Linked DNA regions of Homo sapiens. The protein of the gene in region 2 interacts with the protein of the main gene of each other region in a pairwise test. Each region holds a gene or a part of one and is shown on either strand. Other genes may lie near its edges.

The links.
Region 1: the proteins of DSC2 (region 2) and PKP2 interact in a two-hybrid assay, tested with the Homo sapiens proteins (one study listed by BioGRID).

Annotation. Positions count from the first base shown.
Region 1 is NC_000012.12:32,790,070-32,795,888, reverse strand, and holds the end of PKP2 (plakophilin-2), read left to right. Parts: intron 1-3,157; coding exon 3,158-3,245; intron 3,246-3,396; coding exon 3,397-3,465; coding exon of another isoform or gene 3,466-3,610; 3' UTR 3,611-5,134; downstream 5,135-5,819. UniProt on the Homo sapiens protein: A component of desmosome cell-cell junctions which are required for positive regulation of cellular adhesion.
Region 2 is NC_000018.10:31,078,402-31,085,697, forward strand, and holds part of DSC2 (desmocollin-2 isoform Dsc2a preproprotein), read right to left. Parts: intron 4,660-7,296; coding exon 4,525-4,659; intron 4,023-4,524; coding exon 3,837-4,022; intron 1,952-3,836; coding exon 1,695-1,951; intron 1,589-1,694; coding exon 1,446-1,588; intron 1-1,445. UniProt on the Homo sapiens protein: A component of desmosome cell-cell junctions which are required for positive regulation of cellular adhesion.

The DNA.
Region 1 (5,819 bases), on a different chromosome or scaffold from region 2:
AACAGAGGGTCAGACTCCAGAACTTCTCTTGGTTGTGCATTCCAGCATTGTATTGGCCTAATGAATTAGTTTCCCAAAGCCACAGCTGTGATTTAATAACAGCAGAATGTAGGCAAAGCAGGAGTCCTCTGAATAGGCAAGTGCCCTTTTCCTCACTTCCATCTTAGGAGGGGATGTCACACCAGGTGGTTTAGAAGAAGCAGTGATGGGCTGGGCACAGTGGCTCATGCCTGTAATCCCAGCACTTTGGGAGGCCCAAGCAGATGGATCACTTGAGGTCAGAAGTTCGAGACCAGCCTGGCCGACATGGCAAAACCCTGTCTCTAGTAAAAATACAAAAATTAGCTGGGTGTGGTGGTGCGTGTCTGTAATTCTAGCTACTTGGAAGACTGAGGTTTGAGAATCACTTGAGCCCAGGAGGCAGAGGTTGCAATGAGCCGTGATCGTGCCACTGCACTCCAGCCTGGTTGACAGAGTGAGATTCTGTCTCAAAAAAGAAAAAAAAAAAAAAGCAGCAGCAGCAGTGATGACACAGGAGAAGCAGTCAGGGGGTAGCCTGATGAGAAAGTCTTGCTTTCACAGTTTTTTCTCTGTCTTATCTCTTCCGCATCTTATTCCCTTTTGATAATAGAAGGTCCAATGCATGTCATTCCACATCTGTGTTCCTGTTTTCAACTTTTCCCTATTAAAAAAAAAAAGGAGGAGAATGAAAAACCTTGTATAACCAAATTATTTACTATTAGTTAATTTAGAGTGATGAGATTGGAAAGGGGCATGAAGATTATCTTTTTCTCTTTATACAATTCTGAATTGTTTGACTTATTACAAATAGATATGTTACTTTTGTAAATAACCAAACAAGAAAAGAAATGGCTATGATAGCCTAGTTTTAATGAGTTACAAAGCAGATGACTTCACCTGTACTGAAGAAATGTGTGCTTGGCTGTACAGGGATGTACATGTTACCTCTACTACAGCCCCACCCAATTTAGGCCCCTTCTGCTCTGCAGCCCCACTCTGCAGTGCACACAAGGAAGGAAGACTGCATTTAGAGTCAGATTAAAACAAGCCCTGAGCACTGGCTGGAGTGTCAGTTCCCCAAGAATATTCACCCATCCCCAGAGGCTGGCAGATAGTATTAGAGTTGCTCAGTCTTTGTGGAAAGAGTGAATTACTGTTGCAAAACAGAAATGACTTTTCTTCCAAATAGTCATCCAAACTTCCAAGCAAATCACCGTAAGATAGTATGATGCTCATTATTCGAGTATTCAGACATAACAATTGTTGCACATGGCAATATGCAATTACTTTTGGAAACTTCTGGTAGCTTAGCAAGATAAGGGGTGAGCTACTCTGTTACTTGTTTATTTCCGAGTGTCCACTTGTGAGTCCTCACATGCCCTGTCTCAAAAACAAAAGTTAACAAGGAGCTTCTTGCCAGTGGTGTCTGCTGCTCTTTCCTTACTAGAGTGTTATATATCTGACCTACCGTTTGTGGACTAGCCTGGGAACTAATTATCATTTATAACATTACATCTTTGAATAAAAGAGTACCAAGTATCAAACAACCAACTTATAAACAAATATTATGAATATAACAGCCTTGCAATTTAATAACTTTTTACAGTTTTGAATATTAGAGACCCATCACTTTGATGGATTTATTTGCCCTTCAGTTATTACCAAGTGATTCTGAAAAGTCCAGGGGTTACTAATAAGTGCTGATTTGACTGCTCCTCCCTGCCAGGCTAGTATGGAGGAGAAAGACTTTTCACTCTTGAAGGAACACACCATGCTCTTCTCCGTACATCTTTGCACTCTCTGGTTTTGGTTTTATGTTTACAAATGCCTGTGATATGGGGGGAAAAAGAATCTTTGTTTAAGAAAAAAAATCAGCCATGTGCTAATCAGGTGATAGAAGAGAAAGAGATCTAAGGCGGCACTGATCTAAGCCAGAGGTGGGACATTTAGGATAAAGTTAAAAGCAGAACATGGGCTGGGCACAGTGGCTCACATCTGTAATCCCAGCACTATGAGAGGCCGAGGCAGGCGGATCATGAAGTCAGGAGATCGAGACCACCCTGGCTAACACAGTGAAACCCCATCTCTACTAAAAATACAAAAAATTAGCCTGGCGTGGTGGCATGCGCCTGTAGTCCCAGCTACTTCGGAGGCTGAGGCAGGAGAATCGCTTGAACCTGGGAGACGGAGGTTGCAGTGAGCCGAGATCGCTCCACTGCACTCCAGCCTCAAAAAAAAAAAAAAAAAAAAAAAAGCAGAATATGAAAGACTAAGTACAGTTCAAATGCAGTGGTGACTTTGATTTATAGCAAGAACAAGTTTTCCATTTGCTCTATATGGAAACGTAAAGAGATTTTGAAACTGCTTTAACAAGGGCTGCCACAAGAATTTCTTTTATTGACTTGAAAAATTACTCCTACATTCATGATGTCACAAAATCGTATGTATTTTTCAGTCATGGTTTCATGCATTTTTATTCTATAAACATACATTATAAGTATACAAATATAGATTATATTCTATAAATAATTCAAGGATTTATAACATATCTAAAGATACATTCCTTATAAATATCAGGGATTTTTCTGTATAAATTACTTGTTTGTTTATTATTATTATTATTATTTTGAGATGGAGTCTAGCTTTGTCACCAGGCTGGAGTGCAGTGGCGTGATCTCGGCTCACTGCAACCTCCGCCTCCCGGGTTCAAGTGATTCTCCTGCCTCAGCCTCCCGAGTAGCTGGGATTACAGGCACACACTGCCACGCCCAGCTAGATTTTGTATTTTTAGTACAGACGGGGTTTCACCATGTTGGCCAGGATGGTCTGACCTCGTGATCTACCCACCTCAGCCTCCCAAAAGTGCTGGGATTACAGGCGTGAGCCACCCCACCTGGCCTATAAACTATTTATTTATTAGCACTGTGCTAGTGGTTTAAAAAGAAAACAAAAACAGATATGGTCCCCGCCTTGCAGAGCTTGCTGCCTAATTGTCTGGTCACCGAGTGGCCTGACTTCATGGATGGCTGCTGCGGAGTAGCAGTTGAGGAGCGAAGAGGTCTTACAGAACACCCACAGGCCGCATCCAGAAGCCTCACTCATTCTCCCTGATCTCAGAATGTCCTTTTCTTTTCAGCTATGCCTCCAACAAAGCAAGTAAAGCTGCTTCCGTCCTTCTGTATTCTCTGTGGGCACACACGGAACTGCATCATGCCTACAAGAAGGTAAGAACATGAACAAGGAATGTGTCATAGTTAACAGAGCCAGGTAATAATGGCCCACTTGACTTGACCCTGGGAAGAAATCGCTAAAAAACTGCATTTTCTTGTGTGCCAGTTTTGTTACCTTTCACGTTTCTGTTTGCTTATTCCAAAGGCTCAGTTTAAGAAGACAGATTTTGTCAACAGCCGGACTGCCAAAGCCTACCACTCCCTTAAAGACTGAGGAAAATGACAAAGTATTCTCGGCTGCAAAAATCCCCAAAGGAAAACACCTATTTTTCTACTACCCAGCCCAAGAAACCTCAAAAGCATGCCTTGTTTCTATCCTTCTCTATTTCCGTGGTCCCCTGAATCCAGAAAACAAATAGAACATAATTTTATGAGTCTTCCAGAAGACCTTTGCAAGTTTGCCACCAGTAGATACCGGCCACAGGCTCGACAAATAGTGGTCTTTGTTATTAGGGCTTATGGTACATGGCTTCCTGGAATCAAAATGTGAATTCATGTGGAAGGGACATTAATCCAATAAATAAGGAAAGAAGCTGTTGCATTACTGGGATTTTAAAAGTTTGATTTACATTTATATTCCTTTTCTGGTTCCCATGTTTTGTCACTCATGTGCACATTGCTTCGCCATTGGGCCTCCAGTGTATTGTTCTGCAGTGTTGAAACAGAATGGAAATGACAAGAAATATCTGCAGTTATCCAGGAGAAAGTATAATGGCAAAATTATTGGTTTCTTTCTTTACTTTGTGCTTGTTTTTATCCCCTTGGGTTGTTTTTCTCTGATTTTTAAATAAACTTAAGAAATTTAGATTACAGAGTATGCATGACTGTAAGAAAAAGAAATTGAGAGGAAGTGATCATAGCAAATTAAAGAAGTCTTTTCCTCCCAGAACTTAAAGTAAAATAAAAAATAAATAAATAAATAAAATCTTTTCCACAGAGAAAGGCAACTGTGATGATAAAATTTAACGTTCCCCCAAACACTGAGTCAATGAGATTTTTCTCAGGAGATACTTTACCTATAACAACGCCGTTAAATCCAAATCTCTTCTAAACGATGGCATTCTATGTAATGCCTTTCCTGGACTTTTTTGGCCACTGCCCTGGACTAGTGAAAGAATGGACTCTATCTTTATCTGCAAGAGGAACTAAGGCCTTCTCTCAGACTGCCTGGCCAGCCTGGGGCACTGAAAATACGGCTCATGTTAATGAGTTACATTATCAGCCAGCCCAGCCTTGCCCACCATTTAAGAAATATCACAGAGCCACTAGATCTCATATGATCTTCTTCAAGCCATTATTTTAACTCAAGAAAACTCTAGAGAAGAAAAGTGAAGAAGTCATGTTGAAGAAGATGTAAGAATGTGTCAAGACCATCCAGAAATGATATGAGAAATACTGATATTTTAAATGGTTGACATCATCCAGCGAAATGAATCTACATTAAATGTTGTTTTAACTGCGCTATGATTAAAACCATTCATATAGAGTTAGTCTTTACAACTACTATTCTGTTATTTTTTTTTTTAATCTGACAACATTTGTCCTAAGTAAGATAAGCAAAAAAATTCTTCAACTCCTTTTGGCAAGAAAACTGTAACAGAAAATAAATTTTGAATGTGTACTTAAGTCTTTATTATATTTGAAGCAATTTTTTTTCAATTTTAAAAGCTGAATGAAGACAACTTAGGTTGCTAACCTAGTTCAAAATGAAATTATTTAGATACCAATTTTTAAAATACTGGAGAGAATTTATATGTCTTTTTCCAGAGTTCTGATGATAAGCATTTGGAGTGCATTTATTCCTCCAGATAATAAATGTGTGTTCAGAACTTTTTGTGTTTTTTAAGGCATTAATAAAGCCTTCGATAATATTAAATACAAAATGAGACCAAAGTAGTGTTGCTTGCATTGGCGTCTGTGTATATCTGGTTTATTTGTGTATCTTGGAATATATGGTATGATTGACATAAAATTTGAGGATTTAACCTTATAAACTTCAATTACTAAGGGTTTGATACTTTGTAATTAGTTATATTTTCCCCTTAATTAAAATCCTAAATTTTTACCAAGAGACATTTCCTGTGAGAATGGTGGGACTAGATGGTGACCTGACCATAAAAATGAAGACACATGCAGACGTGTTAGCTGCGGTTAGATTTTAGTATATTATTGGGTGATTCTGTGACTGTGAAAAGACAGACTACGTTTGATTTCCATGTGCTGCTTTGTTCACTCTGTTTGCAAACACCTCACTACTTTACAATTTGTGAACACCTCTCAGGGAGGTTCTTCTGTGAATGAACAGTTTTGATCACAGGTCTATACATAAATGTGTTTGTTTTCCTATGTGTCCCAGACAGGGCCCATGCCTTCAGAGAAACTAATGGGCAAAGCTGGGCCTTTTTGTTTATTTGTTCCAAAGGGCTGCTCTCTGTCAAGAATTCTTAATGGTCTTCTGGAATGAAGGGGGTTGCTGCCCTAGATTTCCATCACTGGAAACGTTTGTGTAGATCTGATGGCAATAACCAAAGGGTTATCTGATAAAATAGAGAGGGGATTAACATGTCA
Region 2 (7,296 bases):
TCAATTCCATAACAAATATTTGATCTCTCAATCACTTAAACTCCTCTGCAACAGACGAGAATGTAGAATAAAATTATAGGCAAAATTTCTAATTTCAGACAGCAATTTTTATCTCAACTGTCAATAAACTATTTCCAAGTGCCGTTGAGTTTCATGTTTTTTTTTTCTTTTCATTTGCCTTTGACCAACAAGTATTTCTTGGCAAAAAGACATGAGAATCTGAGGCCTTAAAGGACAGTCTTTAATTAGTTAAAGACAAATCAATAATGATTACAACTTCAGCAATTTAACAAACTGAGTCATTTCTCATTAATTTACAGAGAACTGGAATACATAAATCATCTTCCAAAATCACTTCTAAATTCTAATTTTGCAAGTTATAGTATAATAATTTGTTTGTTATATTTAGCATATTTATTTTACAAAGACATAAAGTTCAAATTCATGTTATAGAAATTATATTTTATGCACCAAACGCGTCTCATAAATAATCATCATACTCATATTTCTCTCAATTTTATAGAATGCACAGAACATAATTTTACATTTTATATGATTATATGAATTCATAGTGTTTGTCTCTCTAATTTTATAATATACTATTTATTTACCATGATCATAAATATACCATGATTTATTTTTATATAATGTCTTTAATCAGAATTCTAACCCCCAAGTATATTGTTAGCTTCCTGTAAAAAGTTAGAGCTGTTTTCCAGGACTGCACTGTGTAAGTATGTTTTCCAGGACTGCACTATGTAAGTATGTTCTCACTTTCCTACAAAGTGAACACTTTAAGCGAAATAAGTAGATAAACTGAAACAAGTTTTGTTTTTGTTTTTGTTTTGTTTTTGTTTTTGTTTTTGTTTTGAGACAGAGTCTTACTCTGTCGCCCAGGCTAGAGTGCAGTGGCGCGATCTTGGCTAACTGCAACCTCCACCTCCTGGGTTCAAGCAATTCTCCTGCCTCAGCCTCCCGAGTAGCTCGGATTACAGGTGCATGCCACTACACCCAGCTAATTTTTAATATTTTTGGTAGAGACGGGATTTCACCATGTTGGCCAGGCTGGTCTCGAACTCATGACCTCAAGTGATCCTCCAGCCTTAGCCTCCCAAAGTGCTGGGATTACAGGCATGAGCCACCACACCCAGCTGAAACAAGTTTTACTAAAATAATTTTCTCAATTTTTAATAATTTTAACTTTAATAAATTATGGTCTCAAGTGTTTCTAAGAGTAAATTATTTTATAATTACATCTAAAACTGAGAAGGCTATTAGAAAGCAGACATGAGTTAATAAATTATAGTAAACCTCTTACTTTATATTATCAAGAGATATGAAAACAGAGTGCATGTATCCAGCTTTAAAATGTATACTGTTGGCTTAAACACTGAAGATGTATGTAGCCAAGGAAGTATGTAGCTGGCTTAAAGACAAATTCTTACCTTGGTCTGATGCAAGGACTGTAATATTATATATGCCATTTTTGATGGTCTCTGCCTCTCTATCCAGGCTTCTGAAAACTTTGATTGATCCTGTATTTTCATCAATGGTGACCCACCCTGTTGGATCAGTTAATTTCTTATACCTGTTGGTAATGATGAATTAAAATAATAAAATTTATCATATGCTAAATTATAATAACGTAACAAAATAAGCTATATATTTTAAAACTAAAATAGAATGGTAAGTACCTTATGCCACTGCTACTTCTTGTTTCTGGGTCATATGCTTTATATCCATTGCTTGTTGTTCCCACTTCTGCATTTTCTTTCATGCGAACAGTCTGTATTGGAGGGTTACACTCAGGGCCCTCATCCTGATCTTCTACATTAACAGTAACTGTTGCTGTGCTCATGGCTGATCTTGGACTAGCCTCTCTGGAAAATGGAGCTTCATTAACTACACCAATTTGCAAGATCATCTGTTGCTTTTCTTCATAATTCAAAGGCTACGAAAGCAAATGTATTGAAAAATCAGATGAACTCATTTAATATTTGGCAATGCTAACGAGTATATATAATGTTAAATTTGGAAATATGTTAAGTGTCATGTTGGGAATAACCACGAGAATATGAAACATATATCCAGTGATATGGTTTGGCTCTGTGTCGCCACCCACATCTCATGTCAAATTGTAATTCCCAATGTTGGGGGAGGGACCTGAGGGAAGGTGATTGGATCATGGGGGTGGATTTCCCCACTGCTCATGATAGTGAGTGAGTTCTCACAAGATCTGGTTGTTCAAAAGTGTGTAGCACATCCCCCTTTGCTCTGTCTCTCCTGTTGCCATGTGAAGATGGGCTTGCTTCCCCTTTGCCTTCCGCCATGATTATAAGTTTCCTGAGGCCTACCTAGTCATGCCTCCTACACAGCCTGTGGAACTGCGAGTCAGTTAAACCTCTTTTGTTTATAAACTATCCAGTCTCAGGTAGTTCTTTATAACAATGTGAGAACAGACTAATACACCCAGAAACCCAGTGGTGGTGGAGACAGAGGAGTTCTCCCACTGATTCAGTACTTGGGTAAAGCTGGAAAAAAAAAAGGACAGAAAATTGTTCTTCAACTGCAAATTTAAGATAAGTAGTATAACAGGTATTGATGAAGATTTCAGAGAGTATTTAATGAGGGTTCTTGGATATTAATACATGAGATACTCCTTTAGGGGATTCATACTATAAACAATAGTTATTTACTACAAAATAAATTTTAGGACAGCTTGTCTTACCCTCCTAAGATGAATAAAATTATTTGTACCTGGTATGAGGAAGAGAAAAAAATGGGTAAATTTTTTTAAAATGCTTTTAAGAGGAGCAAGACAAGAAAATACAAAGCTTATGGGCATCATATTTTCTTTTTTTATGTGTGTCTTCCATTCCAGTTCCTGTCTTAAAGACGGGAACATATTTAATAAAAGGTTTTATTTTATCTTGCCTGATATGTAGTTGTAATGAGAATTAGTGAAACCATGCCCTAGAAGACAGAAATTTTTTCAGGTCTTGGACTTCACACAAATTTCCTTCTGAGAATACCAAGGATTAGGGGAGGGGTTAGGTGAAGAAAGAGACAAGATTTAAAGGAAATTTCTCTGCTATTTTAAAATAGAGAAAATAATATAAAAACAGCAGCTGATTTTCATCATTGTAAGGAAAATGGATTCATCATTTTTTAATCCATGGTCCTTGTGAATATATACAAAAAGAAAACGGCATAGACCCACTGTAAAACCATGTTCTGGTTAAAGATGCAGCAGAAATAAGTCTATAAATTTGTCCAAGGCTAAAGGAGCTCAGATTGCTTTATGCACTAACTCTGGCTGCTGAAATAGTATTAGAAAGAAGTTTTAGAAGTGTTTGCATTGTTGAATCACTGAGGATTTTCATTCTGAACCTGGATGCTAAGGATGTAATATATACTGAATATGATGAACAAACCTATGAATAACCTCTCCATGGGGCTGACCAAGAGTAACTCTTGATTTGGGAAATTCAGTAAGTAAATAAAGGCTCCTTGACCCAAACACAGAAAAACTGGGCTAGGAAAAGTCTGGCACTGTCCCAGGGGCATCAAAGCTGTGCTAGTTTTTGAACCATTTAAAGATATTGGTTACAAAATAGATATTGTATTATATGGACTTTTTAAAAAAAAAAATACCTAAACAAAAGATTATCAAAAACTAATATATTCTTTCCATTGTATATGAAGAACAGAGCATTTGCATTTACTTATATACCTATTTTATTCTACATTTATCAGAATTCCTTTCTTTCCATTAAATTCTAGCATGCTATTCTATGATATTATAAACTACAAATAATGTTCTAATTTATTCTTACCTTAACTACACAAAGAACTCCTTCATTGGTTTTGGCATCTGTTACAATTTTAAAATTGCCATTTTCATTGCCCTTTAAAATGGTATAATTAGCTCTCCAGTTAGCAGTATTCACTAAGTCCTTATCCTCAACAGTAACTCGTAAGATTTCCACATCAACTGTATTTTCTTCCACTGATGTCACATACTAAAATAATAAAAGCAAACAAAAAATTTCGTTAGTAACTCTCACAAAAATTGAACACGATGTGAAGTAAATCCTACTCTTCTAATTTCCAAAGTACTATGTTTACATGATTTGAAACCCTAGCACTATACAACTTTTAATGTCACTGGGGCACTTCATTTGAAATCATGAGGGGTGGATGGGGATGTGCATTTTTTTCTTTTCCTTCACTGCAACCTCTGCCTTCCACGTTCAGGCGATTCTCCTGCCTCAGCTTCCCGAGTAGATGGGATTACAGGTGCCTGTCACCATGCCCGGCTAATTTTTGTATTTTCTGTAGAGACGGGATTTCACCATGTTGGCCAGGCTGTTCTCAAACTCCTGACCTCAGGTGATCCGCCCGCCTCGGCCTCCCAAAGTGCTGAGATTACAGGCGTGAGCCACTGCGCCAGGCCAGAGATGTGCATATTAAACAATTAAAACTGGTCTATACATTTTTCTTTAATTAATATCATACACTTACAGAAGTACGAGTAAATGTTGGCAAGTGGTCATTTACATCATCAATGTTAATGATACAAGTTGAAGTTGTCTGTAGACCAAAATACTGACCATCCATGTCTTGTACTTTTATTTTCAACTGGTACTTGTCAATTAACTGAAAACAAAAAAAGAATTTAATTATTGGGGGAAAGCACCAACATTATAATTGAAATCTTACTTTACACTCCATAATTTTTTTGCACTAAGAATTTAAGAAGTGCATTATTACATTTCACAGCATTCGTGTATTAGAAGAATTTTCTCTCACTAGTAATTTTTCTTTTCTTTTCTTTCTTTTTCTTTTCTGAGACGAAGTCTCGCTCTGTTGCCCAGGCTGGAGTGCAGTGGTGTGATCTTGGCTCACTGCAACCTCTGCCTCCCGGGTTCAAGCGAGGCAGGAGAATCACACTAGGAATTTTTAATCAATTTATGAAAATTGAATAGTTTCTCAAATTTATAGTGCTATTAACTTACAGAATATAGATTCAATTGGTTTTGTCTTTATTCAACAGAAAAAGAAGAGCTATTTGCCACAAGTGCATTTAAAATTGCCTGGTAATTAATCAAAACCTTTATCTCCTAGCCAAAGTACATTCTTATGTTCAAAAAAATAGACAGCAATGACTCTTAAAATAGTCTTTTAACAAAACAATAAAATGAAATTTCTTCCTGCAAAAAATATAGATTTTAAGGGTTTATGTTACATTTAAGAGATCATCTAAACTGACATGAAGATAAAGGTCTGGGGCTATGTAGGTTTTTTTCTTTCTGTGGAAAATAGAATCTGGCTCTTAAGGCTTTCAATTTATCAGATATTGTTGAAAACTCATCACTACCTTAAAAAATATTTTTAAACATCTGAAGCATTTAAATATTTTAAAGTGTTTCTCCTTATAACTTTCATTTATCATAAGTGATTGAGATATGGGAGAATTAAAAACAATACAGTAATAATGCTTTCCGGACTGAGCATTAGGAGACTTGGGTTCTATTTCCAACTCCAAAAATAAGAGACACAATCTTGGGCAATTGGAAAATTCACTTTGTCTAGGTTTCTTCTTCTATAAGATGGTGATGCTTACCTTTCCTACCTAATTTATCTCTTTTCATAAGACAAAATAGCATGTTAAAATCTATCCTCATCTTCTACCTAGAATGTTCACCCTTCTCTTACAAAGATTCTTCCCTTAATTCCATCATCTCTGAAACTTTCTTTTCCTTAGGCATTATCTAAAATAAAACTAAAGTTTCTCTTGATCTTCCTGCTTTTAACACACATAATTTTCCAGATTTACTCCTCCCTCATAACCAATCACATGTGTAGACTTGAAAAATAATGGCCTTATTTCAACTGAAAAATTTTAAAACATCATGCTACTGTACTTTCAAGAAGGAATACATATTTTGTTTGTAGTGAACTAAAATTTATTGGAAATAATTAACTGGCTAATGAAACAAGGAAATGAAGTTTGATACCCTAAGTATTAACTTATGCTATCTTCAGATGGAAGAGAAATTCTGATGTTTAAAGGGACTAAAAGGTTGTAGGCAACTGAAGAAAACCGGAATCCTGAGGTCAAAAAGTTACTAGAGAGCACCACTGGATAAACACCTTCACTGGACAAGTGTTTTCAACTGATTATTTCAGAAGAATCTATTCAAAGAAAAGCACTTCTGTGATTGTTTGATTTAGGAGCTGAACAAGCTGTTGAGTTTTTGCTTTTTTTTTTTTTCCATAGAATGCTATTTTCACATAGACATCTATGGCTATGCAGACTATAGTTTTATGAAAGTATTTTGTAAAACATAAAGTTAATCTGTCACTTCAGGGAAAACAACTATTTGTTGCCAATGATAAATTGGAGATTTCAAACAAAAATGAGAAGCTTGGAAAACCTTTATCAACCAATGTGATATCAATGGAAGTAAAGAGGTGATCTTTTTGATATTATTTAATGCAATGTGTCAATATTTGGAAGCTCTGCATTACTTGGTGAACCAATATTTTCCAAATGACCAATGCACAATATAGAATGATGTACTGGTAAAATGGTCACTCAAAGTGTAAGATAGAGCAATGGATTTTAACGTAATAAAGTACAAAAGGTCATTGTTGAGGATTCAGAGTCCACATTACCAAAAACATTTAGGAAACAAGCTACTCCTTATCAAGTATTCATGTAGTATCAAGGAATAATATCCACAGTGATCTGTAATTATCATCAAAATACTACTCTCTTTTCTAATTTTATATCATGTCAGATTGCCTTTATATATGCTTCAGCTAAAACTACATATTGTAACAGACTAAATGCAGAAGGAGATATGAGAATCCACCTGTCTTAAGCAAAATACTAAAAACATTTGGAAAAATGCATAACAATGTCATTCTTCCCACTAAATTGTACTGTTTTGGAAAATGTACTTATTTTGTAAGTACAAAAAGAAGAAAAAGTGTAACAATTTTTACTGTTATTTTATAAGAATTTTAACTGTTAACATGTAATTAATTTATTATTTTTAATATTTAAATTAATATATAATTTAAACTTTCCTTAGTTTTAAACATTAACAAGTAACATAGATAAATATAACCTAGATAAATAAAAGATCTTTGGGATTTTCAACAATATTTAACACTGTTAACAGTATTCAACAATATTTAACAATATGTAATAATGTCAAGCATTGGTCTTGAGACCAAAGCTTTTGAGAACCTCTACCCTAATCCATGAGGGATAGAGGAAGGAAG